Regions from separate parts of the Homo sapiens genome. Here region 1 is linked to region 2. The links come from fine-mapping of genetic effects on gene expression. Tissue or cell type: whole blood. Region 2 holds a variant in brackets; the other region holds the start of a gene. All regions are shown on one strand. Distances are from middle to middle. Region 1 holds the start of TMCC3 (transmembrane and coiled-coil domain family 3). Region 2 has its middle 27 kb from the start of TMCC3.

What was found. PIP is the estimated chance that this variant, and not a neighbour inherited with it, causes the effect.
Region 1: TMCC3 starts here. The variant in region 2 is fine-mapped to the expression of TMCC3 in whole blood (TOPMed, PIP above 0.99).

Annotation. Positions count from the first base shown.
Region 1 is chr12:94,644,185-94,659,581 of GRCh38, forward strand. It overlaps TMCC3 (transmembrane and coiled-coil domain family 3), which reads right to left and starts at 6,373. Exons shown (of 4, transcript NM_020698.4): 1 at 6,169-6,373. The coding sequence starts at 6,246. It overlaps LOC105369914 (a long non-coding RNA gene), which reads left to right and starts at 2,254. Exons shown (of 2, transcript XR_945225.4): 1 at 2,254-5,419; 2 at 6,721-6,818. RefSeq lists silencers at 5,617-5,746, 5,837-6,306, 6,327-6,496 and an enhancer at 5,825-6,540.
Region 2 is chr12:94,670,148-94,685,544 of GRCh38, forward strand. No RefSeq gene overlaps it. Among named protein-coding and RNA genes, the nearest start is that of TMCC3, 27 kb to the left of the region's middle. RefSeq lists enhancers at 5,823-5,932, 6,523-6,632, 13,109-13,198. The variant G/A (reference allele first, on the strand shown) is at 6,010.

The DNA of each region.
Region 1 (15,397 bases), 26 kb before region 2:
TATCCTGATGTTCTCTTTCGAAGGAATGAAAAGTCCTCATTCTGATTCACAGTACAGTGATTCATGGTTCTCTTCCTCTTCTCTTGTCACCCTCCTCCCCTCCACTGAAAACATGAAAACACAATTAAGAAACCACAGGGCTGAAAGCTGCAGACTCTTCTAAGTCAAGCTGCGGGCATTTTCCAAGTAGGACTAGGTTGATTTCTGACCTTAGCAGCAGTCCTGGAGATGCCGGCAGAGGGTCTGAAGCAAAATACACCCTGAGATCCAACTTGGTAGCAGCTGTCTTGGTGATCTCTACAGCGGATGTGACAGGCGGGTGAGCTGGTGGTGGCCGGCAGTTCCTTCTCCTCTAAAGGAAAAGCCTGCAACAAAGTACAGCTCGAAAAACACACACCGCATCACTTTGCTCATCCTAAATGTAAGAAAAACCTGGCTTGAGACACTCACCATTATTCATTCTCTTTAAGAGGCTCTTTAGAACAAAACAAATCACCGGTGAAAACGATATCTGTGTACTACTCAACTTACCACTTCACCGGGTCAGTGTCCTCCAGGACAGAGGTCAGTTTCCACTCCCCCTATTTCCTGCCCAGGGAGTAAGCATGTGATCATCAACTTACTACATCACTGCCCAACCAGTTCCACTGTGAGAAGGGCTACAGCATCCTCTTCTTCACTGCCTTTGGTCATTACTCATCATGTAATTGTAGATGGATTTCCAAACCACAGAACACTTGAAGATATACTACAGGTGGCACTCACGCTTGACACAAGTTTTACTTCAGATGTTAGAGATTTCTGCATGTATTATCATCATGTTCTCCTGTACAAGACAGGGGTATTGTCCGGAACCACAAGAATAAATGAGATACACCCACCAGATATTAAGTTTCCACAGAGACCAGACTGTTTCATTTACCATTGTATTCCTGATGCCTAGATCAGCAGCCAGCACACAGAAGGTGCTCAGTAAGTATTTTTTGAATAAACGAAGCATCTTGCTCTCAAAGTGCCAATGTCTATAGTTTATAAATACATGTAAGCATTAAACATATAAACAGTCAATGTCATGAGAAACATGACGCAAGGAGGCACAAAATGCTAGCAATGCTAGAAAAGTCTATACTTTTCACAAAATTAGCAGCCTTTCCGTTTCTAAGCTCACAAATCCCTCTTTCATATAGTACAGGTCCCCTATTCAAAATGCTTGGAACTAGAAGTGTTTCAGATTTCAGATTTTGGAATTTGTTTTGTTTAGTTTTGTTTCGGAGATGGAGTCTCCCTCTGTTGCCCAGGCTGGAGTGCAATGGCACAATCCTGGCTCACTGCAACCTCTGCCTCCCAGGTTCAAGCGATTCTCCTGCCTCAGCCTCCCTAGTAGCTGGGATTACAGGCACCTGCCACCATGCCGAGCTAATTTTTTTGTATTTTTAGTAGAGACCGGATTTTACCATGTTGGCCAAGCTGGTCTCAAACTCCTGAACTCAAGTGATCTACCCACCTGGCTTCCCAAAGTGTTAGAATTACAGGCATGAGCCACCATGCCCGGCCTAGGAATCTTTGTATTATACTTACTGGTTGAGCATTCCAAATAGAAATATCTGAAATCAGAAATGCTCCTGTAAGCATTTCCTTTGAGCGTCATGTTGACGCTCAAAAAGTTTTGGATTTTGGCTTTTGGATTGAGATGCTCGGCCTATAGTAAAAGTGGTTAACATCTATTGATTTCTTATTGTGCACCCGGCATGGAGTTAAACATTTTATAGACATTACTGAATTTATTCCTCAAAACACCCCTATTATGTAGAAGTAGGAACTAAGGCTTAGAGTGATTACAGGATCCAAGATTACACTGGTAGCAAACAGCACTGGTACAAGATCTGTATTCTGGGGACTATCCTAATGCAAATGGTTCTGTAGGGAAAATAATATGGTCCTTGCATGCAGGATGGAACAGAAGTTGGTGAAGGTCATAAGTGACTAAGGTGGGGGATGATTGGGAGATATGGAAGAAACCAATTCCAGAGAAATGTCAGAGAAAGGTGCGGTGGTATTGCTAATAGGTTAGAGAGATGGGGGAGGGCAGGCACTCAAGATGACTAGCAGTTCTGATTAGTAGTGGCACCAACAAAATAGAAAAAAATTATTAACCTGACATATAGACAAATACAGCTTTTTCACCCAGTGAGAGAACATAAATTTAAAAAAATTTTTTTAAATAGCTAATATTTGAAAGCACACACCTTTTTTTTTTTTTTTTTTTTTTTTGAGAGGAAGTCTCACTCTTGTCCCCCAGGCTGGAGTGCAATGGCACGATCTCAGCTCTCTGCAATCTCCGCCTCCCGGGTTCAAGAGATTCTCCTGCCTCAGCCTTCCGAGTAGCTGGGATTACAGGCACCTGCCACCATGCCTGGTTAATTTTTGTATTTTTAGTAGAGACAGGGTTTCAACATGTTGGCCAGGTTGGTCTTGAACTCCTGACCTCAGGTGATCCACCTGCCTCGGCCTCCCAAAGTCCTGGGATTACAGGCGTGAGCCACCGTGCCTGGCTTTTTTTTTTTTTTTTAAAAAACAAATACTTTCTTATTTAAGACACACAATCACTCCCAGAAGAGTGGAGTATTACCTCTTTTACAGATGGGAAACTGGAGGCTCAGAAAGGCTATTTAGGACCTTGCCCCAGTGGTCACCCAGTTAAGAAGCTCGAAGAGCCAGAATACAACCCACGTAGGTCCAGAGCCCCAGCTGTCCACCACTATACTCAAGTGGCTGGAGAGGGCATTTTAGAACACTTAAAATGAAAACCAACTAAAAGAAAACCTAATTCACACATCATTAATAAAAGCCAGTTACTGTATAGAAAGCAGACGGCCTGTATTCTTAAAAAGATGATAGGCTTTAACTATCTAGGGCATGAAAAAAAAGTAGGAGTCTAATTATGGATGCTCTTTCTTCTAAAGTAGAGAGATATGTGCATCAAGTTAACAAGCACCATTTCTGAGTTTTACAAAGATGAAGTTTTAAAATGTGAATGATCCTGACTTGTCAGCTTAGCAACAATCACAGAATTCATTACTTACATTTTCACTAAGGGGGGAGGGGTTATCTAGGTCAGTCCACCTAGATGTAAAAATAGATTTCTGCAATGTTGAAAGAGTACACTGCCTCATTATTATTCCAGTCTCAAAGGCTGAAATAAGCCCAGCAAGACAGACCATGTAGTTTCCCTGTTATCTCAACAGGTATTGATTTTGAATTTAAAAAATGACCATTCAGTAACTAAGAACTTCATCTCATGGAGTCTTTGCCCACTTCTAGGCAGAAACTCCATATCCCTGAAAGATTAGTCGACTCTTCCCATGACCCCCTAGTTCTCATTGGCATTTTTAGGGGAGCTAATTCACCAAATGAGTTCATAAAAGGGTTCTTTTTAAATCCTATACTAGTTTCCTCCCAAGGAGATGGTGACATCAAGAAATTAGCACTCGATGTCTTCCTCTCGCATCACATACGTTCTGGGTGTCAGGAAAACATATCTTTACAGCTGCATCCAAGTGAGTTCCACAATACAGGAGCTACGATCATTTAAATGGATGAATACTTTCTGCACAGTAAAATTGTTGCTTTCCCTTCATTACAACAGACTTATTGTAGCCTCAGGACAGACTTGAAATTACATCAACCCTGCTTGAGAAAAGTTATTATTATGAGTTTACAAAAATTTCACTAGTTCTACCTATTCCTCGCTGTCTCAACAATAAAAAACCTAAAAGCAGATAGCTGAGAAGTTTCAACTGGGACCTCAAGAAGTCCAGCATCACTGTAGTAGAATTTGTGATTACGGTCTGCTGAAGTTCTAGCCCTTCTCTGATTTCCTCTCTTCACTAGATCTGACTGGCCCAATGTGCTAATTTACGATAATCCGCACATATAATGTCTAACTCAGTTTTAATACACAGCTTATTTAAAAATCGGGTATCTCCATGCTAACAATACAAGGCAGCAGGTACAATAACATTGTCAGTAGAATTGTTTTATTTATTTATTTATTTATTTATTTATTTATTTAAAGACAGAGTCTCGCTCTGTGCCCAGGCTGACGCGATCTCGGTTCACTGCAACCTCCGCCTCCCGGGTTCAAGTGATTCTCCGCCTCACCCTCCCGAGTAGCTGGGATTACAGGCGCCCACCACCACGCCCGGCTAATTTTTGTATTTTTAGTAGAGACAGGGTTTCACCATCTCGGCCAGGCTGGTCTTGAACTCCTGACCTGGTGATCCACCTATCTCGGCCTCTCAAAGTGGTGGGATTACAGGCATGAGCCACCGCCCCCGGCCCGTCAGCAGAATTTTAAAGAAAATCAAGAAATCACATAAGGTTTTGACCTTTTAATAGAAAAGACTGGCGTAGACAGGCAACAGTGGCAGATGCGGCAGAAACACTCTGCAGTTACCTTACACAATTGCTTTACCACATTCCACCTAAGCAGTTGAGGCACAAACTTTATCACCACCATTTTACAGGTTATGAAGAGTGAGTTTTGTAAAGTTGCATGAGTTTTGCCAAACCACTTAAATGAGTTGACAATGAGCCATCCATCCCGCTAAGATTACTAATCTTGTTTACACAAAGAAGATCACAGTTGTGACAAGAAAAAACAAGCTTTCACATTTCAAGTCTGCAATATTAACTTTACAGAATCCTCTCAATTACAAATGCATTCGAAGATGATCTCCTTTTCTTCATAGTTCTGTTAACTAGCATTACAGCTATCCAAGAAGAAATGTCTACCTGTGGGTAAGCACATTTCTTCAATGTTTATTCCAAATGGAGTTTCTGGTTATTTTCACAGCAAACTGTTACGAAACTTATACACAAAGTGCAAAAACAAGAGAATTGTAAGATTGAGATGAGTGCATGAGGTATTATTCCACCAAATATATTCAATCTGTAAAAACTCAAATCATCCTTCCAAAATGATTAACAGATGCTAAAGGAAAAAGGGAAAGCGGGCAAATAAACCAGAGACTCATTGCTTCACTTCTGGGGCAATCGATTACTACTTCAAATTATGAGTGAAGACCAAAATCCTGCACAAAGGGCCGCGACACAACCCCGTCACTATTGCTACTATTTCCATCCAGTTGGTCTCTCGATCTTGGAAGTGGCAGGCCAGAATCTGAGCCCGGCTCTCCCTCCGTGAACTTTACACAGAGGCTGACACCCAAATCCCCAGTTCTCGGACAAGCGAGTAAGTAGTTGGCGGAGCAAAGAACAACTCCAGGTGCCTCCTGCCAGAACAGATGCCAGCGTGGAGGAGGTGCTTTGTTAAATGGCACTTCAATCAGCCCTGGGGAGAACGGGTTACAGAGCCTCACATCCAGCCTCGACGATTCAACAGCCCGGGAGGGCAAAGGTATTCACCGGGGAGGGCGAAGGCTTCCTCTCCCAGGACAGACCCGCGCTTGGGCTGCGGCCTCCGTCTTTATTTTGAAGCCCTACAGGGCTCGTCTCTGCAGCAGGCTCAGAATGAGCTATTTTCGCCCACAGCCAAAATCAGCAACAGCAAATTACACTGCAAACAATGGCGAGGGCGCCTGCTCGGCTCGGCTCGAAACTCCGGAGAGGCAGCGCAAAGATTCTGACTTTTCACTTGGGCAGAGCCCGTCCGCCGCCTCCCCGCGCTCCGGCTGCGCACCGCGCTCGGGTTCCGGCCACACGCCCCGAGGACAGGGAGACAGGGCGGCCGCCGGGACGTTCGGCGGGGAGGGCACCGTCACACCCAGGGCGAGACCCCGGAGACCTGGAGACGCGGGGCCGCGGGTGGCCGGGTGGCGGGATTCCCTCGCGGAGCGGCGGGCGCTCCCTGGCGGGGAGGACAGCAGAGCGCGGGCCGTCGGGGAACCGGGCGTCCCGCATAGCGCGCGGGGACCTGGGCGCCGTGAGGGGCAGGCGGACCTGGGATCCCAGAACCGCAGCCTGGGCTCCGACGCCCCCGACGCCCACCCTTTTAGCTCGGAGGATCGGGGAGGCACGGACCTCCGGCGGCAGCGGAGGGCGGCGGCGAAACGCCGGGGGCGCGTGGGTTAGCACTGAGCCGCCGCCCCAGCCCGCCTCGCCCCCGGGCCCGCGCGCACCCGCCGCCCCCCAGCCCGCTGCGCTCACCCGGCTCTTGCAGCGGTGGTGCCGGCCGGGGTACGAGTAGGTCCGGTCCACGGTGAGCGCCGTGTCGCTGCCCGGCATCTCCGCGCTCCGGCCGCGAACTTTCCCGTCTTCTGGGGCTGCCGCGCCGCGAGCCACCGGCTGTGCTCGGGATCACCCTGGGAGCCGCGGGCGAGGGGGCGGCGCGGCTGCTGCAGCTGTTGCCTCTGGTGCCAACACCCGCGCGGCCGCCCTGCGCCGCCGCCGCCGCGGGGTGGGGGAGGCGGGGCAGGAGGCGAGAGTCTCCTCCCCCTTCCCTTCTCCCCGCCTCTCCCGCGCCCCGCAGCCGCCTGGACCCCCCACCCACCCCCGACCCGGGAGGCAATGTCTTCGCCTCCCTCCCTGGCTGAAAGTTGATTCCATCCCCTCCCACACAGCCCTCTTTCTCCCCAAAAGATAAGCGACATCCACACTACACTATCTGTTGACTTATTTTATATATAAAAGGTGACTGTTACTGCAAGAAGTTGACACTTGCCTTAAATGCCTCTTTTTATGTTATTCTCCATTCAACAGGCACTTACTGGGCAGCTGCCATGTACCAGACGCTGGACTAGAGACCAGAGATTTAAAGTAAAAAAATGAAATAAAATAAAAACTCCCCCCGACCATGATTGCCCTGAGCATAGAGCATACTTCCACTTAAACTAAGATCCTACTGTGTTGTGTATTTTAATTTTGCATATCTGGCTCACCTTTATGTTTCTTTCTTTTTTTTTTTTTTTTGAGACTGAGTCTCGCTCTGTCACCCAGGCTGGAGTGCAGTGGCGCAATCTCGGCTCACTGCAAGCTCCGCCTCCCGGGTTCACGCCATTCTCCTGCCTCAGCCTCCCAAGTAGCTGGGACTACAGGCGCCTGCCACCACACCCAGCTAAATTTTTTTGTATTTTTAGTAGAGACGGGATTTCACCATGTTAGCCAGGATGGTCTCGATCTCCCGACCTCGTGATCCACCTGCCCTAGCCTCCCAAAGTGCTGGGATTACAGGCGTGAGCCACTGTGCCCAGCTTACCTTTATGTTTTAAGCTACTTGGAAGTCAGGATATCTTTTCATTTTAGTATTCCCCATTCCCAGTCATCAGTCCCTGCCCACAAGGAATTTGGAGTTTAGAAGAGGAAGGACCATTGGTGAACAATTTAAATATCAGTAACCCCAAACAAAATTCAAAACACCTGTTCTGGCTCTGTAGGGTGTACAGTGGGAGACTGGGCTGAAATATTTAAAGTGCAGCTGTTCCAGAGAGGACCTGGAGCCCAGTGTGACCAGTCCAGGGGGAGGGAAGGATTTCCCTCATAGGGTTCAAAGGGGACGGTAGAGCAGGCTGAAGAAAACTTTGGAGCCCCTAAAATCAGAGGTACATTTGGGAAAACCTCAAGTCATCAGTTTTGGGGAGTGTCCTCAGGAACAGGAAGACATGATGGAAAAGAAGGCAGAGACCATGCAGAATCTTCGTTCAAGGGTAAGAAGTTCAGCCTTATTCTGTGGGAACTGGGTAGCTGTTGGAAATTCTTGAACAGGGAAATGATAGCATGGGAATGGAAGTTTAAGGAGAAGGTATATCTGACATCAGGGTGAAGCAGCGATTGAAGATGGGCAAAACACACTGGCTTCTTAGAAGGCCACTGTAAAGACAGAATAGCCTAATTATCCTTCAGAAGGAGACTAAGTAAATAAATGATGGTACATCATCCAATAGAATATTAGGTAACTGGAATAGAAATGAGGCAGCCCTCTATGAATAGCTTTGGAAGCAAATCTAACATACATGGTTCAGTGGAAAAAAAGCAATGTGCAGGATAATATATATGGCATTCCACCATTTATGTAAAAACAATATATGTTATGTGCTTCTACATGCACGACATATATCTGGGAGGATAAATAAGAAACTAGGGAAACAGACAAGAAATTGATGCCAAGAGAGGGGAACCAGGTAGCTAGAAGGCAGAGATGGAGAGAGATCTAATTTTCACTGTGTATACTTTTGAAACTTGAATGTTTATACTGTGGGCATATATTAACTATTCAGAAAGTAAAATTTTTTAAAAAATGTTTTTTAGAGATAGGGTATCTGTTGCCCAGGCTGGGGTGCAGTGGCACAATCATAGCTCACTGCAGCCTCAAATTCTTGGTCTCAAGGGATCCTCCCACTTCAGTTTCCCAAGTAGCTAGAACTACAGGTGTGTGCCACCATTTCTGGCTAATTTTAAAAATATATTTTTTTGTAGAGAAAGGGTTAAAACTAACTTAAGAAGAAATTGAAAGTCCCATGTAGTCCTTAAGCCATTCAAAAAATTAAATCAACACTTTTAAAAATACCCATCTACCACTACCCCAACACACAACTATACTAGACCCAGAGAGTTTTTCAGGTAAGTTCTTTGAAAGAAGAGAAATACCAAACGCTGGGGTGTGTGTGTGTGTGTGTGTGTGTGTGTGTGTGTGTTGGAGGGAGATTTTAGCTAGGGTGGCTAGAGAAGTCCTCCATGATAAGGTGACCTTGAGCAGAGACTTGGGAAATGAGGAAGCCAGAAGTATAGACATTGAAAATTTCCAGCAGACAAACAGAAAGTCAAGGGCCCTGAACATTTCGGGAGTGTTCAAGGAAGAGCAAGGAGGCCAGTGTTCACTGGAAAGAGATGAGGTCAGAGACATTTCAGAGGGCCAGATCATATATGGACTTTCATTCTATTTTAAGAACTTTAATTTTAGGCAGGGCGTGGTGGCTCACGCCTGTAATCCCAGCACTTCAGGAGGCTGAGGTGGGCCGATCACCTGAGGTCAGCAGTTCAAGATCAGCCTGACCAACATGGAGAAAATCTGTTTCTACCAAAAATACAAAATTAGCCGGACATGGTGGCGCATGCCTGTAATCCCAGCTACTCAGGAGTCTGAGACAGGAGAATCGCTTGAACTCAGGAGGCAGAGGTTGTAGTGAGCCAAGATCATGCCATTGCACTCCAGCCTGGGCAACAAAAGCAAAACTCTGACTCAAAGAAAAAAAAAAAAGAAAAGAAAGAACTTTAATTTTGGGGAATATGGGAAGATTTGGAAATTTTTGAGCAAAGGAGTGGCATGATCTACCTTTTCACTTGGATGAAAATAAAATTGATCTCTACCTCACAGCATAAACAAAAACCAATACCAGATAAAGGAAAAATAAAGAAAAAAAATTAGCTGGACATGGTGGCTTGCACCTGTAATCCCAGCTGTTCAGGAGGCTGAAGCAAGAGGTTCACTTGAGGCCAGGAATTCAGCCTGGGCAACAGAGCAAGACCTGTCTCTAAAAAAATTAAAAATTAAAAAAAAAAAACAGATTAAAGACTTAAAGTGGAAAAAACACAACTTAAAATTGTCAGAAGAAAATGAAAGAATATCATTATTATCATCTCAAGTAAAAAAAAAAACAAGACACAAAAAGCATAAACCACAAAGGTTTGACATTAAAAAAATTAAACTTCTGCTTATGAAAATAAACAATAAAGTAAAAAAATAAGCCACAGACCAAACTCCAGCTAAAAAAAAAAATCAATATGGACAAATTTCACAAACAATACTGAGAAACAAAAAAAGCAAGCCACAAAAAATTACTTGCAGTAAGATTCATGTAGGCTGTGTGGTAGCTCATGTCTATAATCCCAGCACTTTAGGAGGCTGAGGTGGGAGGATCACTTGAGCCCAGGAGTTCGAGACCAGCCTGGGCAATATAGTGAGACCTTGTCTCCACAAAAAAAAAAAAAAAAAGATTCATGTAAAGTTTTTGTTTGGTTGGTTTTTTTGTTTGTTTGTTTTTGGTTTTGAGACAGAGTCTCACTCTGTCGCCCAGGCTGGAGTGCAGTGGCACGATCACAGCTCACTACAACCTCTGGCTCCCAAGTTAAAGTGATTCTCATGCCTCGGCCTCCTGAGTATCTGGATTGCAGGTGTGCACCACCATGCCCGGCTAATTTTTGTGTTTTTAGTAGACATGGGGTTTCACCATGTTGGCCAGGCTGGTCTTGAACTCCTTGCCTCAAGTTCAAGTGATCCACCCGCCTCACCCTCCCAAAGTGCTGGATTGCAGGCGTGAGCCACCACGCCCAGCCTTCCTGTAAAGTTTAAGAAAAGCAAGAGGATAATAAACACAAATTTCAGGACAGTATCTCTGGTGGGGAGATGAAGAAGGCTTCAATAGAAAAGGGGTACACAATTATAAATATATAATGCTCTTTAACAAATGACTGTTGGTACACTGGATGTACATTCATTCATACATACACACAATAGTGAAGAATAATTTAAAATTTTAAAGGTAACAGAGTCTCAAAGGAACAGATATGGTGATATCCTTAATTCTGGAATTCAAATCACCAGTTAGGGGTACCTTCTCAAATAAATAAACATAATAGCACTTTACGTGTGAATAAACTCAGAGAGGCCCTGACAAACCAGGGTTGGGCTTTGCTTGGGGGTACCAACAGGCATCTACTTTCCATTTCTATTACTGTCTTGATGTTTCTTAGAATTCCATCCTGGAATGCTGACCCTCAATGAGAAGGATAAATTAAAACTTTATTAGGCTCATTTAAATGTCAATTAACAAAGGATGTTCTTTTTTAGATCATTTAAATTTATTTCATAAGCTAGTTGCCCAAAAGCTGCTCTGCTGGGCACTCATACAAAATTATTTTTTAAAAATATACAAATTAAATAGCAGAAGAGCAAGCTCCCCAGAACAGAAAGAAAACAAGCAGTGCTGATCACCATCTGGGTCTCCTTTTGGGAGGCAGAACCCAAGGGGAAAATAGACCACATCCCCTCCTTTGGACGCAATGCCAATGCCTAGGGTTTTGTCAGCCCTGGAGAGAGAGAGAGAGGGAGAGCGCAGGTGCAAATTCCTCCTGTCAATGTAAGAATTCTGTGCTTTTGATACCTCCAAGAGCCTCTCTCTGCAGAAAGTATGGAAAATATCGCACTGTTAAAATAACAAATGCAGTCAGAACAATAAGAAATACAAAGGTTCATACCTAAGGTGTGAAATAAGAATTTACTTGCAAACTATAAGGAAGGAGCACAACAAGACAGCAGATGCTAAAAGCACCAAAGAAGAGACCAGGTCATTTGAGCTGTAATAGTTTAAAGTTTGGAGTGAAAGGCCTATGGAAAGAGGTAGGACTACACTTGACTTTTGTAGTGCGTGTTTGTTGTTTCAGCCTGCCCAGGATCCCACCCCTTATTCTGAAGACAGTACCTAGGTTTTCTATTGGGACCTACCCTACTCCTACTTTTAATCCAAATGGCTTAGATAAGGTGGACCATTCCCATCCTTGGATCTAGAGAGTGGCATGTCATCCAGCCTTGGCCAGTCAGAGTCACTGTGGCTTGTGCAGGGATGGGCACATGAGCTAATCAGAGCAGATGAGAGTCATCCCCAGACTTTTGTCAGAACTGCTGGGAAAGCCTATGCCCTTCCAGTGGGCATTGCTAAGCTGGTACAATGCAAGCCTGATGCTGTAGTGGACATCCTTCCACCATATAAAGACAGCCTCCCTGGGAAAGCAGAGCCATGAAACGGAGAAAGACTTCTTACTAAATCCTTAGAGCACTAGATCCAGCATTTTCCATCTGCTATCGCTGCATGACAAACCACCTTAAAATGCTTTGGCTTGGCCAGGTGCAGTGGCTCACGCCTGTAATCCCAGCACTTTGTGAGGCAGAGGTGAGTGGATCACCTGAGGTCAGGAGTTCGAGACCAGCCTGACCAACATGGTGAAACCCCATCTCTACTAAAAATACAAAAATTAGCTGGGAGTGGTAATGGGCACCTGTAATCCCAGCTACTCAGGAGGCTGAGGCAGGAGAATTGCTTGAACCCGGGAGGCGGAGGTTGCAGTGAGCCAAGATCACGCCACTGTACTCTAGCCTGGATGACAGAGCGAGACTCCATCTCAAAAAAAAAAAAAAAAAAGGTGTTGGCTTACAACAATAACTACCTCTCATTAGCTCATGATTCTGCAATCTGGGCAGGCCTCCAAGGGAGGTGAGGTGGCTTTTCTCTGTTCCATGTGGCACTGGGGGGGGGGGGGTAGGGTGTCCAAGATGGCTTCATTCATATGAGTGACATTATTATATATATATATACATTGGTTTTCACCCATGGTTCCTGGCTTATAATTACCAATGCCCCTGTAATAGTCTCTTGTCATGATTTTGGGGCACTTTAGATCCCAGAAGCCAGCCTCAGAAGCCTTATCCTACCCTTGTTCCAGCTGCTCTTTTCTCTCCTGAAGGAAGGAATCTTCCCCCGCCTTTCTGTCATGCAGCTGGCCATGAAGAAATTCTCTGACCTACCTTGTCTGACTGTAGGACATAAGGTTCATTTTAGAAGGGGTCCTGCTCCATACCCTGGAGGAAAGAATGCTGCACAGAGAAGCCAAGAAGAATCTGAACAGACAGGCCTTGCTGGGTCTCGCCACTCAGTCTCTTAGTACTAGATCATATACCCTTTTGTCCAGTCACATTTCTACATGGTTGTCAATCATGCCCACCCAGTGACGTCTCCATAAAAGGCCGAAGAGTACAGGGTTCAGGGGGCTTCTGGATAGCTGGACATCTATGGAGGGTGGTGTACTCAGGGAAGACACAGAAGCCCTGCGCTCCTTCCCCTACCTCGTCCCATGCATCTCTTCATCTGTATCCTTTCTGATATCCTTTATACTAAACCGGTAAATGTAAAATATAAGGTTCCCTGAGTTCTGTGTGCTGCTCTAGCAAATTAATCAAACCCAAAGAGGGGGTCATGGGAACCCCAACATGAAGCCGGTTGGCCCGAAGTTCTGAAGGCCTGGGCTTGTGACTGGCATTTGAAGGGCAGTCTTGGGGACTCTGCCTTCAAACTGTGGGGTCTGACGCTATCTCCAGGTAGAGGTGGAGGACACCCAGCTGGTGTCCAGAACTGATTGCTTGCTTGGTGTGTGGGGAAACCCCTCTCCCATATTTGGTCACAGAAGTCTTCTGTGTTTATTGTTTTTGTAGTGTGAGAACAGAGGAAAAACATAGTTTGAGTTGATTTTTCTACAAACAACGTGTCAGCACCTATAAGACTTAGGGTGGCTGGAATGGTGGGGGCTGGCCGGGCCTCTGTCTTTATTTTTATATGTTTATAGTTTTTTAAAAAACTTTTTATCTTACTCTGTCACCTGGGCTGGAGTGTGATGGCATGACCATAGCTCACGGCAGCCTCAAACACCCAGATTCAAGCTATCCTGCCACCTCATTCTCCTGAGTAGCTGGGACTACAGGTGCATCAGCACGCCTGTCTATTTTTTGTAGCGACAGGGTCTTGCTGTGTGCCTAGGCTGATCTTAACTCCTGGCCTCTCCCACCTCAGCCTCCCAAAGCTGGGATTATAGGCATGAGCCACTGTAGCCGGCCTGTTTATACTTTTTTAAATACTTTTTTTTATAGTCTCTCATCTCTCCATCAGGGTAGTTGGATTTTTTTACATGGTGGCTGCCTTCTAACACAGCAAAAACAAAAGCTGCCAAATCTCCTAAGGCCTAGCCTAGAACTGGCAGATTATCACTTCCATCACATTCTACTGGTCAAGGCAAGTCAAAAGTCCAGCTCAGACTCCAGGGGAGGAGAAACGGGGTCTACCTGTTGAGGGAAGGAGTGATGTGCACATAGATGGGAGAAATTGCTGACTGCCATTTTGGCAGCCAATCCACCACACCAGCCTTGCCTAGACCACCTTTTCAGTGATATGAAGCAATGGATTCCTCTTTTTGCTCAAGCCCGTTAGAGATGGGGTTTCTGACTCCTGCAACCCAAAGAATCCTGTCTGATGCAACATTCAATGCAGGGTATGGGCAGAAAGAAGACAAGGAAAAGGGCAGCATTTCAAGAGAAGGCAAGAACTTTGAACAGCACAAATAAAGGGAGAATCAACAGAGGATTCTAGTGGGGGCACCAAGGACTCTAGAGTTTTCTCAGGCCACTAGCTTGAGTCTTCTGTGGTCAGTCCACACCAGATTACCTGTGAACTGCTCAACTATTTACAGTCTGGACTAATTATTTCAATACAAAGGTTATAATACATTATATTCTTTAAATATTTCATGTGATAATTTCTATGCTTCCCCCCTACACACACTAGAGTATAGGTTACCTGAAGGAAAGGACTGTACTTTCCAGGTACATGTAGGTATTCTGGACAGTTCTTAACATAGTATTCAATAAATGTTTGCTGAGTGAATGAGATCAACATTATTAAATGTCTACTTATTTCCTAGGCATTGGGGTTTTAAAAAATGACTCCGACATAAGCAAAAACTAGTGTCTGTTCCTAAGGGGTTGGAATGGGTAATAGGAAAGGATGAAAATTCACTGAATGATGGATGTTACCAATTTTCAGCTACTAAGTAGTTAATGACATTTGTGAATTCTCCCGTCATTTATTGAGCACCTTTGGTGTGACAGCCTCTGCTCTTGGTGCTGAGAATATAGAAATGAGTAAGACATCCAGAAGGGACAGCCCATCTAGACAGTGAGGCAGACACCTCCAAAAACGTTGCTGTAGATGCCAGGATAGTTATGTGCTTGGCATGGTAGTAGGACAAAGGAAGGAGGTGGTCTCCTCATGCAGCTCACTTCCTTAGATGTTTCAGTCCTATGGTCATCACAGCAGGGAGAAGGAGAGACAAGGAAAGCCAGATGTTGAAAACAAAAGTACAAGCCTCTTGTAAAGGAAAGGAAAATGTATTTCTTTTCATATTCCAGTTTGATTTAATAGTGCAGGGAAGTGTTCCCTTTGGGGGAAAGAGTCATAAGACAAAAAGTACAACAAGCTTCCCTCTGCAAGGATATAAGAACAGAGCAAAAGGAAGAATAAATCAGGTTTTTAAAATGTATTCTTCTAGCTTGAGGTGAACACATGCTGATCAGCTCTACATATCTATATTACAGATAGATAGATAGAAATGCTTATGTTGCGGATCAGCAGCTTTCTGGCCTGATGCAAACATGGATCTCTAATTCTAACTACCTGGTTTATAGCCAACTAAAAATGACCACACTCTTAACATCTACATTTAATTTCTAACATACCATGTTCTATGTGACTGCAAATAAACAATCACTGCTACTTATTTAGTATTAGCAATTATCTGGCACAGAAGCCCGAAACTTCCACTTGGCAAGATTTTGATTAAA
Region 2 (15,397 bases):
AACTGGGCTTTGATGGGGAAAAAATGTTCCAAAGACGTCATACACCTAGAACATGTTTCACACACGTGCTAGATCATCTCTCCAGAGAGTTTATTTCCTGCTTGAAAGTGGTTTCACCTGTTTTTCTAGGTCTCCTTCTTGGATTCTCCTGTTTGATGCTGCGGCGATCTCATAACAGAAATGTGATATTGCTATAACTATTTGTATTACTTTGCTCAGGCTGCCATAGCAAAATACCACAGACTCGGGGGCTTAAACAACAGAAGTTTATTTTCTCACAGTTCCAGAGGCTAGAAGTCTAAGACCAAGGTGCCAGCAGGGTTGGTTTCTCTGAGGCCTCTCCCTTTGGTTTGCAGACAGCTGCCTTCTTGCTGTGTCCTCACATGGTCATCCCTGGTGTCTCTCAGTGTGTCCAGGTTTCCACTTCTTCGGTTTTTTTTGTTTTGTTTTGTTTTGTTTTGTTTTTTGAGAAGGAGTCTCACTCTGTGACCCAGGCTGGAGTGCAGTGGCACAACCTTGGCTCACTGCAACCTCCGCCTCCCGGGTTCAAGCGATTCTCGTGCCTCAGCCTCCTGAGTAGCTCGGATTACAGGCTCATGCCACCACGCCCGGCTAATTTTTGTATTTTTAGTAGAGATGGGTTTTCACCATGTTGCCCAGGCTGGTCTGGAACTCTTAACCTCAGGTGATCCGCCCAGGTGGATTACAGAGGCGTGAGCCACCATGCCTGGCTGGTTTCCTCCTCTTACAGGGACATCAGATAGATCAGAACCCAGCCTAATGGCGTTGCTCTAACTTCATTACCTCTTTAAGGGTCCTATCTCCAAATGCAGTCACATTCTGAAGTACTAGGGTCTAGGGCTTCAACATACCAATGTTACAGGGGCACAGTTCAGTCCCTGACACCACTCATGCGATGATGAACTTGGCAAATGTATGGAAGCAGCTGTGCCTGGAGATAAGGGGGAATAGCAGCTGGGGAATGAGAGAGTAGGGATCTTGAAACCTACAAAGAAACTCCACATTCCTGGGAAAATAAAGCCCTGATTTCCTTTGTTGAAATCTGCTCATTTTGATTAGGTACTTTCTTAAACCCCTACTTTAATTTTGCATAGAGATAGAGCTACATAAAAATTTCCATCCAAAGAGATAACTAAAGAGGTAATGACCCATAGAATGTCTTTAACAGCTCTTCCTAGTATGCAGTCTTCTTTTCTTAAGAACAGCTACAATTCTCAATATGCCATTTCTCTGCATAAAGTATATGTGCACAGCCTGTGATATATGAATAGAAAGGGAGAGTGTGGGGAGAGGAACAGAGGAGATGAGGGAACAAAGGAAGGCAGTGAATGGAGATTTTTAAAGAAAGAAGTTCAGTGTGAAAAATACACACAAACTCCTGAGAGGTAGGAATGTACTGCAAAGATGCTTCTCTGAATGAGAAGCCAGGGCAGGCCCAACCAAGTGAATTTCTGGTATGAAAAGAGGTACCAGGAAGGAAAAAGAAGTATAAAGTTTTTAATAAGACCAAGTGATTCAGTTTTGAAATGAGATATAATCTAACTTAAAGGACTTGGGAGACAAGTGAGAACGTGGAGTTATCAGTGGAGACAGTACCATAGCAGCTGGGGGCAGAAAGTTCTGCCTTTGTCTGTGGGTTTTGCAGGTCAAATAAACAGTATCCCCAAAGATTCAAACCTGAGGCTTGCAAAGGACTCTCCAGTTCCAGATTCTGGTGTTAAAAGTCTGTATCATGCCTAAATAAATATATTTAAAGAGCTGTGGCCAAAGATGTGGTTTTATAATTACATATTGATTTATATTGGATTTCTTGGTTGGCTGCAGAGTTTGGAATCTTTCCAGCATTACTTTCTTGCCAATTTCTAGGTAGCTTATAGCAATTTCAAAGTACCTCCAATTATACATTTTCAACAGATGGGATTATTAAATGCTTAGTGCAAACAATGATCCATAGATGTGTTACCACCCACCAGTAGACAAAGCCGAGCTTCTCTCTGCTCCACTCTCATTCCAATAAATATTTACATCCTTCCATTTACTCATTTCAAGACTGTAGGATATGGAATTTCATTGCTCTTTTAAGGTGAGTGCAAGAAATTGTTAATGGTTTCTGGATTTTCCAATTAACTTGCTCTCAGAAGAATTTATCTTTAGTATAAATAACAGAATGGTTCATGGTCTGTAGATATTTTCATCTACACATCCAAGTATGGTATCAATTTTTAAGTAGGAAACTTTTTTTTTTTAAGCATTTATACTTTTAAAGCCTAGACTGTAGAACTTTTCAGAACAAGGTGTGTGGTTCAGCCTTCTTTTTCAGATGAGGAAACTTGAGGCACAGATATGTAAAATGGCTTGCTACTTGGTAGCAGAGCTGAAGGAATAGGCAGTAGAAGAGGGAGAAGAGACTCTGCAGTTCGTGTGGGCACCTGCTGGGTGGCCAGGTTCTCATCTTTGTGGCTTCACAAACACACACCTTGCAGCCAGCATCCTTGTCACAAACTCAGGCTAGCAAGGCTGAGACGGAGACAGGTTAGGACAGTGGCCCGCTGTCATTCACAGTAAGTGATTTAAACCCAAGTCTGTCTGATACCCCAGACCAACCCTTTTCCATTTCCCTACACTGTTCCCTAAACAGAACCAAGTTATATTATTGAGTTTAAAACTGATATTTATAATGGCATTAGATAAAGTTAGATTCAATAGCTTCTCCAAACCCTAGGTTTATTTTCTAGTATTCAATCTCTGAATTGTTATTGGTTTCTGTTTTGGCAGCATAACTGACATTTACTTAAGAAAATATGAATTAATACATATTTAGGTGTAAATCAAGTGAAAGCCTAGCTGTTTGACCTTAATTAATCATTAATGGAAAAAATTCCCTCATCCTTTGAGCCTTTCTATTTTGAATGCAATTATTTAAATGAAAATGTAGGGCAGTCCTCTTTACCATGTCTTACCCGAATAGGAAATTCACGGAGTGTATCTCATACGTCCATCCCCAGTGTTCACGGTGAGAGACATGAAAAGGTACAAGAATCAGTCAGCTAGTAAGTGATTCAAACTCAAGACCACCTGACACCCGAAACCAAGCCTTTTTATTATCTAACGTTTCCCAGGTAAAGGAAGAAATACATACAAGGATGTATAGAATGCACCTTTAAGACATTATCAAGCATATTCAGATGTAAAAGCTTCTTAGAACCTTGTGCACTGGTATTCAATTTCTGTGAAGCTATTCGTTAGAAATAGTTTTACTTAGCAGAGAGAAAAAAATTATAGTTATTTTATATAGTTAGGTAATTAATTACTCACCCACAGCTAAACTCGCTGCCAAACACAGGTGGACCACAGGGCTATGAGGCCTAATGCTTCACACCTATTAACCCAAAATGCAGTGGACACAAAGGGCATCCTTAACCCCCATATGGTAATTCTGAACTGCACGAGCAATTAAGTAAGAGTGTGACCTATTACCACTGACATAAAAACAGCTCAAAGGCCATGTACTATTTACTATTCATAGGAGTCCCGTGGCATACATTGGTTTTCAAAAGACAGCAGGTGACATTCATCAGCAGACTTTCTGTGTCCCTCTGCTCACACTTACAGCACAATTTTAGAGTCTCAGGTTAAGGCTGTTTTTCCTTAACAATACTCAATTTTCTTCTGAATCACTGAGAAAATCTAAGTCTACCGTGGGGTCATCCTCAGTAGACTGGAAATGGGGAAGAGAATGTGAGCTTCTTTTGTTTTTATATCCTCCTGTCCATAATTAGGCAATATTTTTAAAAGAGAAAAACAAAAACGTTCCAAGCACAATAACCTTGATGCCGTTCTGTAATCCAGAGTGGCATACTGGCAAACTGGGTTATTATTTTTTTTTAATTTCAGATAACCTTCTCTCAATTGTCAAGGGTATATTCAGCAAATCAAATCGACTTCCCTCAGCATCATAAATCCCATTTGTATCCTAGTAGAAACACACATTTCCTGAGAAAGGGAGCTGGGTCTTAAAAAAGGAAGTTGAAGTTTTTAAGCTGGAGATAAGGCATTTCAAAAGGGAAGAAACTTTTGGCAGGACTCGAGTGCATCCTGCACTAATGGAAATTGGAAACCCATCCTTCATTTCATGAACATTACTATACAAAATGTAAAACATATTGGTACCACAGCAACCAACTCTGCATAATGTACTTGCAGCTTCAAATGGCAACCCTGGGGGAGATAAAAGTTGATTTTTTTTTTTTGCTATCATGAAATGTTGGAATTTCTTAATTCCACAGATATTAGCAAGTGTATATTTCATGCCAGGAAATGTTCTTGGCTCCAAGGATATAGCAGTGAACACAATTAGGTTGCTGGCTTCATGGAGTTATATTTGGAGGTGGGAAATTTTAAAAATTACTGTATAATATAGCAGATTAGAATATATAGGGATGGTATAATATATATTATGGTATATTAGTATATATATTTATCATTATTACATGTGTCACATATAGAAACATAGTATATAATACCATATTATGCAATATAACAAAATATGTCAGGTAGATATAGATCATATCAGATGCTAGTAAATTTTAGAAAGCAGAGAAAAGGGGATAGATGAGTGTTGCATTTCTGAATAATATGTTTTGGGAAGTTCTCATGGATAGGCTGGGACACCTAACTAGAGAACTGAAGGAAGTGAGGGGGTGATACATGTAGAATATCTAGAAAAAGACCATTCTAGGCAAAAGGACCAGCAAGTGCAAAAGCTCCAAGGAAGGGGAGCACTTGATCCATTTGAGGAACAACAGCAAGAAAACCAGCATGGGTGGAGCAGAGTGAGCCGAGCAGGAGAGCGGGGAGGGTGGAGATGAGGTCAGAGAAGCAGCCTGGGGTTAGAAGAACAGCAGCGCAGATCCTGTGGCATTTTCTGGCAGAGTAAGGACTTTTTATGGGGGGGCCAGGGTGGAAGCCGGGAGGCTGATCAGGAGGCTATTGAAACAGTTCAACGTTTCTCTGCATCTGTCCCAGACCGTTCCCTTCCCATCTTGCTTTCTCTCCCAGACCACTGCTGGCTTTTTTTTTTTTTTTTTTTTTTTTAGATGGAGTCCCACTCTGTTGCCCAGGTTGGAGTGCAGTGGAGCAATCTCGCCTCACTGCAACTTCTGCCTCCCAGGTTCAAGCGACTGATTCTCCTGCCTCAGCCTCCCAAGTAGCTGGGACTACAGGCGCATGCCACGACACCTAATTTTTGTTTTTTTGTTTTTTGTTTTTTTTGAGATGGAGTTTCGCTCTTGTAGCCCAGGCTGGATTGCAATGGCACGATCTCGGCTCACTGCAACCTCCGCCTCCCGGGTTCAAGCGATTCTCCTGCCTCAGCCTCCCGAGTAACTGGGATTACAGGCTTGCGCCACCATGCCCAGCTAATTTTTGTATTTTTAGTAGGGACGGGGTTTCACCATGTTGGCCAGGCTAGCCTCGAACTCCTGACCTCAGGCGATCCACCCGCCTCAGCCTCCCAAAGTGTAATTTTTGTATTTTCAATAGAGACAAGGTTTCACTATGTTGGCCAGACTGGTCTTGAACTCCTGACCTCGGACGATCCGCCCACCTCAGCCTCCCAAAGTGCTGGGATTACAGGCGTGAGCCACCTGCCCGGCCATGGAGCCTCTTGCTCCTATGTCTCTTCTGACCTCCAGCCTTACTCACCCATCCATCCAGTTCATCTACACATGGATGGCTCAGTATGTTCAAGTGTGCCCGCCTTCCTCCATGCCCCTCTGGCTCCTCTAGGATCCCACCTTTCAGCAAATGGCACCACCACTTAGTTGCTTAAGACTTCTCTTGGGAGTGTCCCTCCTTTAACACCTCACATCCAGGGACTCACATCCAGAGTCCTGTTGCCGCAGACGCATTTCATTTCCTTTCATGATAACACAGAGGAGTAGAAGGGGCCAAAGGCATAGGAGGAAAACAAGAAAATACAGTGTCACC[G/A]GAACCAGGGGAAGTGTGTTGATAAAAGCAGTGGTTAGCATGTACTTCTCACTGTAGCAGACACTATGCTCACCACTTCCCACAAACTATGTCATTTAGACCTCGCTACAATCTGAGGAGGAAGGTGCTACGCCCATTTTGCAAATAATTTAGAGAAGTAAATTTCCCAAGGTCACAGTGTGTACTAAATCCCCTAAGAGAAATAAATTGAGTCTGAAAAACTCAAGTCCACTGAACTGAGTCATGTGGAGACCACCGGTGACCTTAACAAAAACCTGGCCAGTGTCCAGCCGGAAGAAGAGTGAGAAACAAGAGGGAGATGAGAAAATAAGGACAGGAAGTTAGCCAACTCTCTCCAGGGTTGGCCTGCAAAGCAGACAAGGAGGAAGATAAGGCTATAGTTGAAGGGAGGGCAGAGGGGCTGGGCACGGTGGCTCACGCCTGTAATCCCAACACTTTGGGAGGCTGAGGTGGGTGGATAACTTGAGGCCAGGAGTTCCAGACCAGCCTGGCCCACATGGCGAAAGCTTGTCTCAAAAATAAAAACTAAAAAAGAGAGTGCTGGGGGAGTGTCTAGGGAAGGTTTTATTTTAGGTGACAACAAAGTAATTTAAATTTCTAAAACTCAACCCCTTTGCAGAGTGTGGGTTAGCATGTCTATGTGAGCAATCAGCACAGAGAAGGTATTTGTTTTCTCTGCTTCCTGCTCCAAGGAAATTCAGATTTTGCTTATGAGTTTGGTTTAAAAAATCATTGGCTATGCATAAAATTTGCGTCCCATATCCTAGAAGATGGGAAAAGCTATAGAACAGAAGGTGTATAACTGGGTCAACAAAATAAACAAAAAGAGGATCTACTCTGGTTTTCTTGGGAAGCTGAAAAATCAGTGCTTTAGAAAAAACCAGTCAAGCCAGACTATTCTGTCACAATGTGGTGGAGAAACCCCAACACTGAACCCAAAAGCAGATGACCTAGTGGGCTGCTCTTTCCGGCCAGCCACTGTCTAGCTTTGTCATCTTGTATAAGTCACTCAATTCAGGGTCAGCATCCTCTGTGGATCAAGGAGCTAATATTTATTATGCCACACTTGGTTCTGGGCAGAATCAAACAACTGAATCAGCCAGAAGATTGACAGAGGATGCATGATTTCAAACAACTGAAATCAGCCAGTAAAAACGCTTTATACAAATGCAAGGTATTCCCAATATCTATCATAATTGAAGGTAAGCATTAAAAGATACTTATGGGCTAGGTACAATGGCTCACACCTGTAATCCCAGCACTTTGGGAGGCCGAGGCAGATCGCCTGAGCCCAGGAGTTCGATACCAGCCTGGGCAACATGGTGAAACCCCATCTCTACAAAATATACAAAAACTAGCCAGGCATGGTGGTGTGCACCTGTAGTCCCAGCTGCTCGGGAGACTGGGGTGGGGGGATCACCTGAGCCTGGGAGGTTGAGGCTGCAGTGAGCCGTGATGGCACCCCTACACTCCAGCCTGGGCAACAGGGGAGACTCTGTCTCAAAAAAAGAAAGAAGATATTGTACACAGTCTGGAAGCAAGCTGTTTGGATACATGTACATTCACCAACTGATTCAAGATTTTTAAAAAATTCAGTGATAGCTTAACAATGCCAGATATATAACAACAAACACCTGCATATTTACTTTTCATTACAGCTGGTGCTGTTGAAGCTGATTTCCAGTGAATCAGGTTAAGCCAGGCCTAAACTTGTGGCCATGACTGGTCTGTGAAAATGCTCAAAGTGTGACATACTTTCAGTTTGCTCTGGATCTCACAGCATACCAATTCAGTACACAGGTCCTGCCACAGAGGTGTTTCTGGCCTGTGATTTAATAAGCAAAGAAAAACCAGTACAGCCAGTCTAATTATTAGAGCAGCCAAGCTTTCAGACTCTCTTAAATACTTCCAACATCAGGCCTCCCTCAGGCAGGGCAAGATTACACATGACTCCAGCCCGGTACCAATTCCCTAACTGTCCATTTCCTATGGAGACATGGATATGGCCTTCTCTAATTAGAGGGACAAAGACAGAAGAGAACCATTATTAGGACTTTACTTTTTATCCCGTTTTAGTTCTAAAACATTCAAGTCCTGCCCTTCACTGATCACTATTACAAATATTAAAATGGGGGTAGGAGTGGTGGATTAAGTGCCACAGAGACCGAATGCATCAATTGTTTCACTTATGGAACATTCTGGGCTCTGAGAACCTCGGAGTAGGAGTGAATCAATCGTACATCCAAGCAGATAACAGCTCAAATCACCAGCTCAGCACAATTCTTCTGGGCACCCTCTTCTCTATCTGCAAAAAGAGACTGGCTTTCCTTCCTCCTCTTGCCCTCCCTCCTGCCCCCACCCCACCCCCGCCGCGCCCTAGGCCTGGAGTCTAGGGCTGCCCAATGACAGGAACACCCAAATCAGCACTGTCTTCTGGGCTGCGTTGGCTTCTGTGGTTGTAGCTAGGAATGGCCAGCAGGGCGGGGGTTGGGTGGGGTGGGATGGGGGCCGTGGGGGTGGCTGCACAAGGAATCATACACCTTTGGTAATACACTTACCGTTTACAAAAAGTTGAGAGTCCACATAACCAGGAATGTGTAATTCATGCAGCTTCCTAAAACTGCCAGGGAATTATTCTTGCCTCCAAGTCAGCCCTGGCTAGGATCGTAAGTATTATAAATGCAAAAAGAATAAAAAAAAGACAGTGCAATTCTTATTTAGTGGGTATTCAGCTCTCAAACCTGAGGGATGGACTAGGAGATTAACATGATGCTCACCAGCCTCTGAGACCTTCCACAAACGCCCTCTGACCAGTCTTTCCCACCTACCCTCCTGCACTCCCGCACCCTCTGCCCTGCAGTCATTCTGCCTCACTCACCGCGCCCTGCACGTGCCTTGCCTCTCCCTTTGTGCTTTTGCAGGTTATGGTTCCGCTGCTGCATAGAATAATCCCTCCTCTCTCACAGAAATTCCTCCCATCTGGGCCCAGATCAAATGCTCCTCCTCAAAGAAGACTTCTCTGATTGCTAGGAGCAGTATCTCCTTCTTCTTGCCACAAATAATATTTTGTTTACAGCAATAATAAGAGCTACTTATTGAACACATACTATGGGATGGGAATCCTATGAAGCACTTGATACATTTTATTTCATTTAATCCTACTACTATTCCTAGTTATAGGTGAGAAAGCCATGATTGAGAAAGGTTAAGTACTATCTCTAAAAGGGCAGTGGCGACACTGGACTTGGTCAGGCAGTTGGACACCAGAGCTCCCACACTCTACTACACGTTGCCTTATACTGTAATGATTTGTGCAAGGGTCCCATCTGCTCTGTGAATTTCTGAGGTCATATATCTTCAGATATCCCATTATATGAACTCATGGCTTGGCCTAAGTGGTCACTGGAATTGGAGCAAAAGTGCACTTAGAGACAGGTTGCTATGGCTGATTCTTCCAGGTATGCTATTTTATCTTTAACCCAGCTCTGACCTTTAGGATGGGTCAAGAGCAGCAACTAAAATGGCCTCACAAAGTCAAGGATCCAAGACCCAGGAAGCAGGAGAAATCTGACCCCTGGAATGCTCTGGAAGCACTGAGGGGCCCCACAGGATATGGGCACCATTGTGTCCTAATTTGGATAACAGGTACCTGAGACATACAAGCCTGTCTCTGTGCATATCAGCTAGATCTCTTAGAATGGTGAGTCCCGGAGCCAGGGGCAGGGTAGCTTTCTTTTCCAGTATATAATAAATGCACACTTGTTGCAGTCAATGTTTCTTCAGACTCGGTTTTCAGTCTCCCAGAGAATAATAAATTCTTGTTGAGAGGATAAGACAGCATGGCTCAAAGGTTAAAAGCAAATGGGCTCAATGTTAAACAGAATCAGTCTGAATGAGTCCAACTTTGCCCCAGTATTTGTGATCTAGGACACGATACTTAATGTCTGTACTTCAGTGTCCTCGTCTGATAATAGAGATAATATCACCACCCATTCATTCATAAGGTGACTAGGAGGACAGAGTGAGATAATGCATGTAAAGTGCTCACTATACTCCACTCAAAAACGGTTAGCTCTTATTATTTAACAATTGCTCTTTTCACTAATGCTAATTATTGTTGTTGGTTAGTCAATTTATAGCTAATGAGAGTACATTTTCCATCTGAAAAATTCTTTACTAAAATTCACTGGTTAGTGTTACTCTTTTCTGCTCTACAGAGCTAGCAGTGAATATAGAGATCAACAATTCTGAACATAAAGAATGAGAAGATATGCCAGGCATGGTGGCTCACACCTATAATCCCAGCACTTTGGGAGGCTGAGGTGGGCGGATTGCCTGAGGTCAGGAGTTCAAGACCAGCCTGACCAACATGGTGAAACCCTAAGTCTCTACTAAACCCTTAGTCTCTACTAAAAATACAAAAATCAGCTGCGCATGGTGGCAGGCACCTGTAATCCCAGCTACTTGGGAGGCTGAGACAGGAGAATCACTTGAACCCAGGAGGCAGAGGTTGCAGTGAGCCGAGATGCCGAGATTGTGCCACTGTACTCCAGCCTGGGCAACAAGAGCGAAAATCCATCTCAAAAAAAAAAAAAAGAAAGAAAGAATGAGAAGATATATAGTGATATGGTTTGGCTGTGTCCCCACCCAAATCTCCTCTTAAATTCCTATGTGCTGTGGGAGGGACCTGTGGGAGATAACTGAATCATGGGGGCAGGTCTTTCCCATGCTGTGCTTGTGATAGTAAATCTCACGAGATTTGATGATTATTACAAGGGGGAGTTTTCCTGCACAAGCTCTTTCTTCCTGCTGCCCTCTCTGTAAGATGTGACTTGCTCCTCCCTGTCTTCCGCCATGATTGTGAGGCCTCCCCAGCCATGTGGAACTATAAGTCCAATTAAACCTCTTTGTTTTGTAAATTGCCCAGTCTCGGGTATGTCTTTATCAGCAGCATGAAAACAGACTAATATATATAGCCTGGGCAACATGGTGAGACTCTGTCTCTACAAAATATAAATAGCCAGGTGTGGTGGTGCATGTCTGTGGTCCCAGCTACTTGAGAGGCTGAAGTGGGAGGATCGCTTGAACCCTGGATGTCAAGGCTGCAGTGAGCCATGTCTGCACCACTGCACTCCAACCTGGGTGACAGAGTAAGACCATGTCTCAAAAAAAAAAAAAAAAAGATATAAACATTAGAGGTACCACCTAACAATTAAAGCTGTTCAAAATATGGTGGCCTCTGAGAAAAATGAGCTGCCCCCTTTCCCTACCCAGCAGAAACTGCCTCCTATGGCCATTACATTTGGTTCAATTTAAGACCCTGATATGGTGGGGATTTGTGTCCCTGCCCAAATCTCATGTCATCCCCAGTGTTGGAAGAGGGGCCTGGTGGGAGGTGATAGGATCATGGGGGCAGTTTCTTGTGAATGGTTTAGCACCATCTTCCTGGTGCTGTTCTCATGAGAGAGAGTGAGTTATTACTAGAGCTGGTTGTTTACAAGTGTGGAGCACTGCCCCCTCTCTCAATCCTGCTCCTACCATGTACGATGCCTGCTCCTGCTTTGCCTTTCGCCAGGAATGAATGCTCCCTGAGACCTCCCCAAAAGCAGATGTCGCTATGCTTCCTGTACAGCCTGCAGAACTGTGAGCCAACTAAACCTCTTGTCTTGATAAATTACCCAGTTTCAGGTATTTCTTTATAGCAGTGCAAGAATGAATTAATACAGAACCCAATGGTCTTACTTCTTCTAATATCCTATTTTGCCCCAGCCACTTATGGTGATGATTCTCAAACTTTGGTGGACGTAAGAGTCACTTAGTGTGTTTAACAAATACAGATTCTTGTGTCTATTTGGGATTATGATTTAATTTTATTTACTTTTTAGAGACAGGGTCTTACTCTGCTGCTCAGACTGGTGTGCCAAGGCCTGATCATAGCTGACTGCAACTTGAACTCCTGGGCTCAAACGACCCTCCAGCCTTCCCTCTTAAGTAGCTGGGACCACCGGTGTAAGCCCAACTGGGATTATGATTTAATAAAGAACATCCCAGGTGGTTTCTGATACCAGTGGTCCTGTGAACCAATTCTCAAAAACAGGGTCAGTAACTGACAACTTAGAAATATTTTTCCGTGTAGGCTGGGCGCCGTGGCTCACACCTGTAATCCCAAGCACTTTGGGAGGTCAAGGCAGGAAGAACGCTTGAGGCCAGGAGTTCAAGACCAGCCTGGCCAACATGGTGAAATCTCGTCTCTACTAAAAATACAAAAATTAGCTGGCTGTGGTAGCATGTGCCTGCAGTCCTAGCTACTCAGGAGGCTAAGGCTTAAGAATCGCTTGAACCCGGGAGGCAGAGGTCACAGTGAGCCGAGGTCGTGCCACTGCACTCCAGCCTGGGTGACAAAGTGAGACTCCATCTCACAGAAAAAAGAAAGAAAGAAAGAAAGAGAAAAAAGAAATATTTATCCGTGTAAATTTATTTCCTGTAACAGAAAAAGATGGAAAAACTTTTAATTCTCCAAATCTGGGTCTGCATTTTTTGAAAATAATGTTCCCTGAAGCCTAATCCTTGGATTCGATAATAATGAGTTTGTCTATTAGTTATCACTTATTCTGGTGAGTAATTTCTAAAGTCTCGTTTTACTTCCTTTTTTTTTTTTTTTTGAGGCAGAGTCTTGCTTTGTCGCCCAGGCTGGAGTGCAGTGGTGTGATCTCGGCTCACTGCACACTCCACCTTCTGGGTTCACACCATTCTCCTGCCTCAGCCTTGAGTGGCTGGGACTACAGGCGCCCACCACCACGCCCGGCTAAATTTTTGTATTTTTAGTAGAGACGGGGTTTCACCGTGTTAGCCAGGATGGTCTCGATCTCCTGACCTCCTGATCTGCCCACCTTGGCCTCCCAAAGTGCTGGGATTACAGGCGTGAGCCACTGCACCCGGCTAGTCTCATTTTACTTCTCATTGCTGATGAAGCACCAGTTACTTTATTGTTTCTTCCCAAGGCTGTGTACTGGTAATAATTTTCTTTAAGAGAGGCCAGAATCTTGACATGGTCCTGATTCTGGGGCCAGGAAGCCTCAGTTTTGCTTTATTACAAGCTCTGAGGCTTCTTTTCAAATGGCTACAGTCAGGCTGACATTGGCAATGATGAATATGATGCAGAAACAGCTGCAGTCTCTGAAGCAGAAGGTGCTCACAAACCTGCTTTCTAAAATTCACTAATATCTGATATGACACACATCCATCCCTCAAGGGTCTAGAATACAGGATGTCAGGAGAGAATGAGGTTGTAAATATAGAATCTGCTCCAGCACTGGCCAGTCTGAACATTTCTTTCCCTTGGCTCCAGCATAGCATTAAAGACCAATAAAACCACAGACTCTAAAGGCAGAGACTTCCTGAGTTTCAAATCCCCAGCTCCAATACTTACTACTGTGTGAACCTGAGCAAGTTACTTAACTTCTGTGTGCCTCAAGTTTTAAGTTTTTCATCTATAAAGTGCTGTAGGGGGAAAAATATATTTTCTTCTATCCATCTTAGGTGTCTTGGCTAGTGCTCCTGTAATAAAAGCCAAATTAATAAGAGAGAAGCACACAAATTTATTTAATATGTTTTACATGACACAGCAGCCTTCATAAAGAGAGGAAACCATAGAGAAGCAATTAAACCTGAGTGTTTTTCATAGTAGGTTGATGAAGAGGATGGTGGTGGAGAAATATGATAGGGCAAAGGGTGCAAGGTGAGTGCAGTGACCTGGAGGAACTTAGCAAGGCCTGTTTGGATTCTTCTCTGTGTCCCATCGTCTTCAGAGATAAGGATGCTCCTTCCCTTTGAATATAGGGAAAGCAACTCTCACATGAGTGTTTCATGACCCTCTTCAAGGGAAGCTCAGAAAATCTGTCCTAGATTTTATGATGTGCTTCAGAAGGGAAGGGTAGAGGAAAGGTCAGAGAGACCTTCCTGTGTCTGCATTTTCTCATATTCCTTCAGATTAAAATATGCAGTATGCCAAACTGCCATATATTGGGGTAGTGTGTTCTGAACCCCATCAATGGGATGTTACAAGAATAGAATTGGCACATAGTGCTATGTGAGCATTTATTAGTATAGGATGGTCATATGGCCCAAGCTATCCATGACACTTCATTCCGGTACTTTTGCTGAATGAGATGCTTCTGCTGGAGTTGATAAATCGGTAAATATTTAAGCTGAGAACTGCCAGGGGCCACCTGTGGAGAAAGCCTTCCTGAGAGTGAAGCTACTGCAGAGGAACGAGGGCTGAGAGGTGGAGACAGTGTAGGATTTAATGCGAATGCTTAAGACCTGGGTCCAGTCATGCCTGGATATCTAGTGTGGACTTTTCAGTGACACGGGCTGTGAACTTTCTTTTCTCACTTGAGTTGGCTTGGGTTGGTTTCTATTGTCAGAGGCATTTGAACCAGAGCGACTCCATCTTGAATAGGGGCTGGGTAAAATGAGGCTGAGACCTGCTGGGCTGCATTCCCAGGAGGTTAGGAATTCTAAGTCACAGGATGAGATAGGAGGTCGGCACAATTTACAGGTCACACAGACCCGGCTGATAAGAGGTTGTGGTAAAGAAGCCGGCCAAAATTCACCAAAACCAAGAAGGCCATGAAAGTGACCTCTGGTTGTCCTCACTGTTCATTATACACTAATTATAATGCATCAGCATGCTAAAGACACTCCTACCAGTGCCATGAGTTTACAGATGCCATGGAATGTTAGCAAGTTACTCTATATGGCCTAAATGGGGAGGAACCCTCAGTTCCTGAAACTGCTCACCCCTTTCCTGGAAAATTCATGAATAATCCACCCCTTGTTTAGCATATAATCAAAAAATAACTATACATATACTCAGTGGAACAGCCCATGCCACTGCTCTGCCTATGGAGTAGCCATTCTTTTATTCCTTTTCTTTCTGATAAACTTGGTTTCACTCCATGGACTTACCCCAAATTCTTTCTTGCACAAGGTCCAAGAATCCTCTCTTGGGGGTCTGGATTGGGACCCCTTTCCAGTAACATTATCACCTTCCAACAAAAGAATTCTGACCTAGCTTTATTGAGATATAATTCGCATACCATCCAGTTCACCTATTTAAAATGTACAATGCAGTGGTTTTTACCACATTCACAGAGCTGTGCAACCATCACCACAATTGTTGGATTGTTGATCTAAAGATCCTCAGAGATGGCTCAGTAGGCCTGGGATGTGGAATGTGGACAGGCATGTGTGATTCTGCTTCCAAAGTCACCACGATTTTGTTTTGTTTCGTTTTTGAGACAGGGTCTCATTCTGTTTTCCAAGCTAGAGTGCAGTGGCTCACTGCAGCCTCGACCTCCTGGGC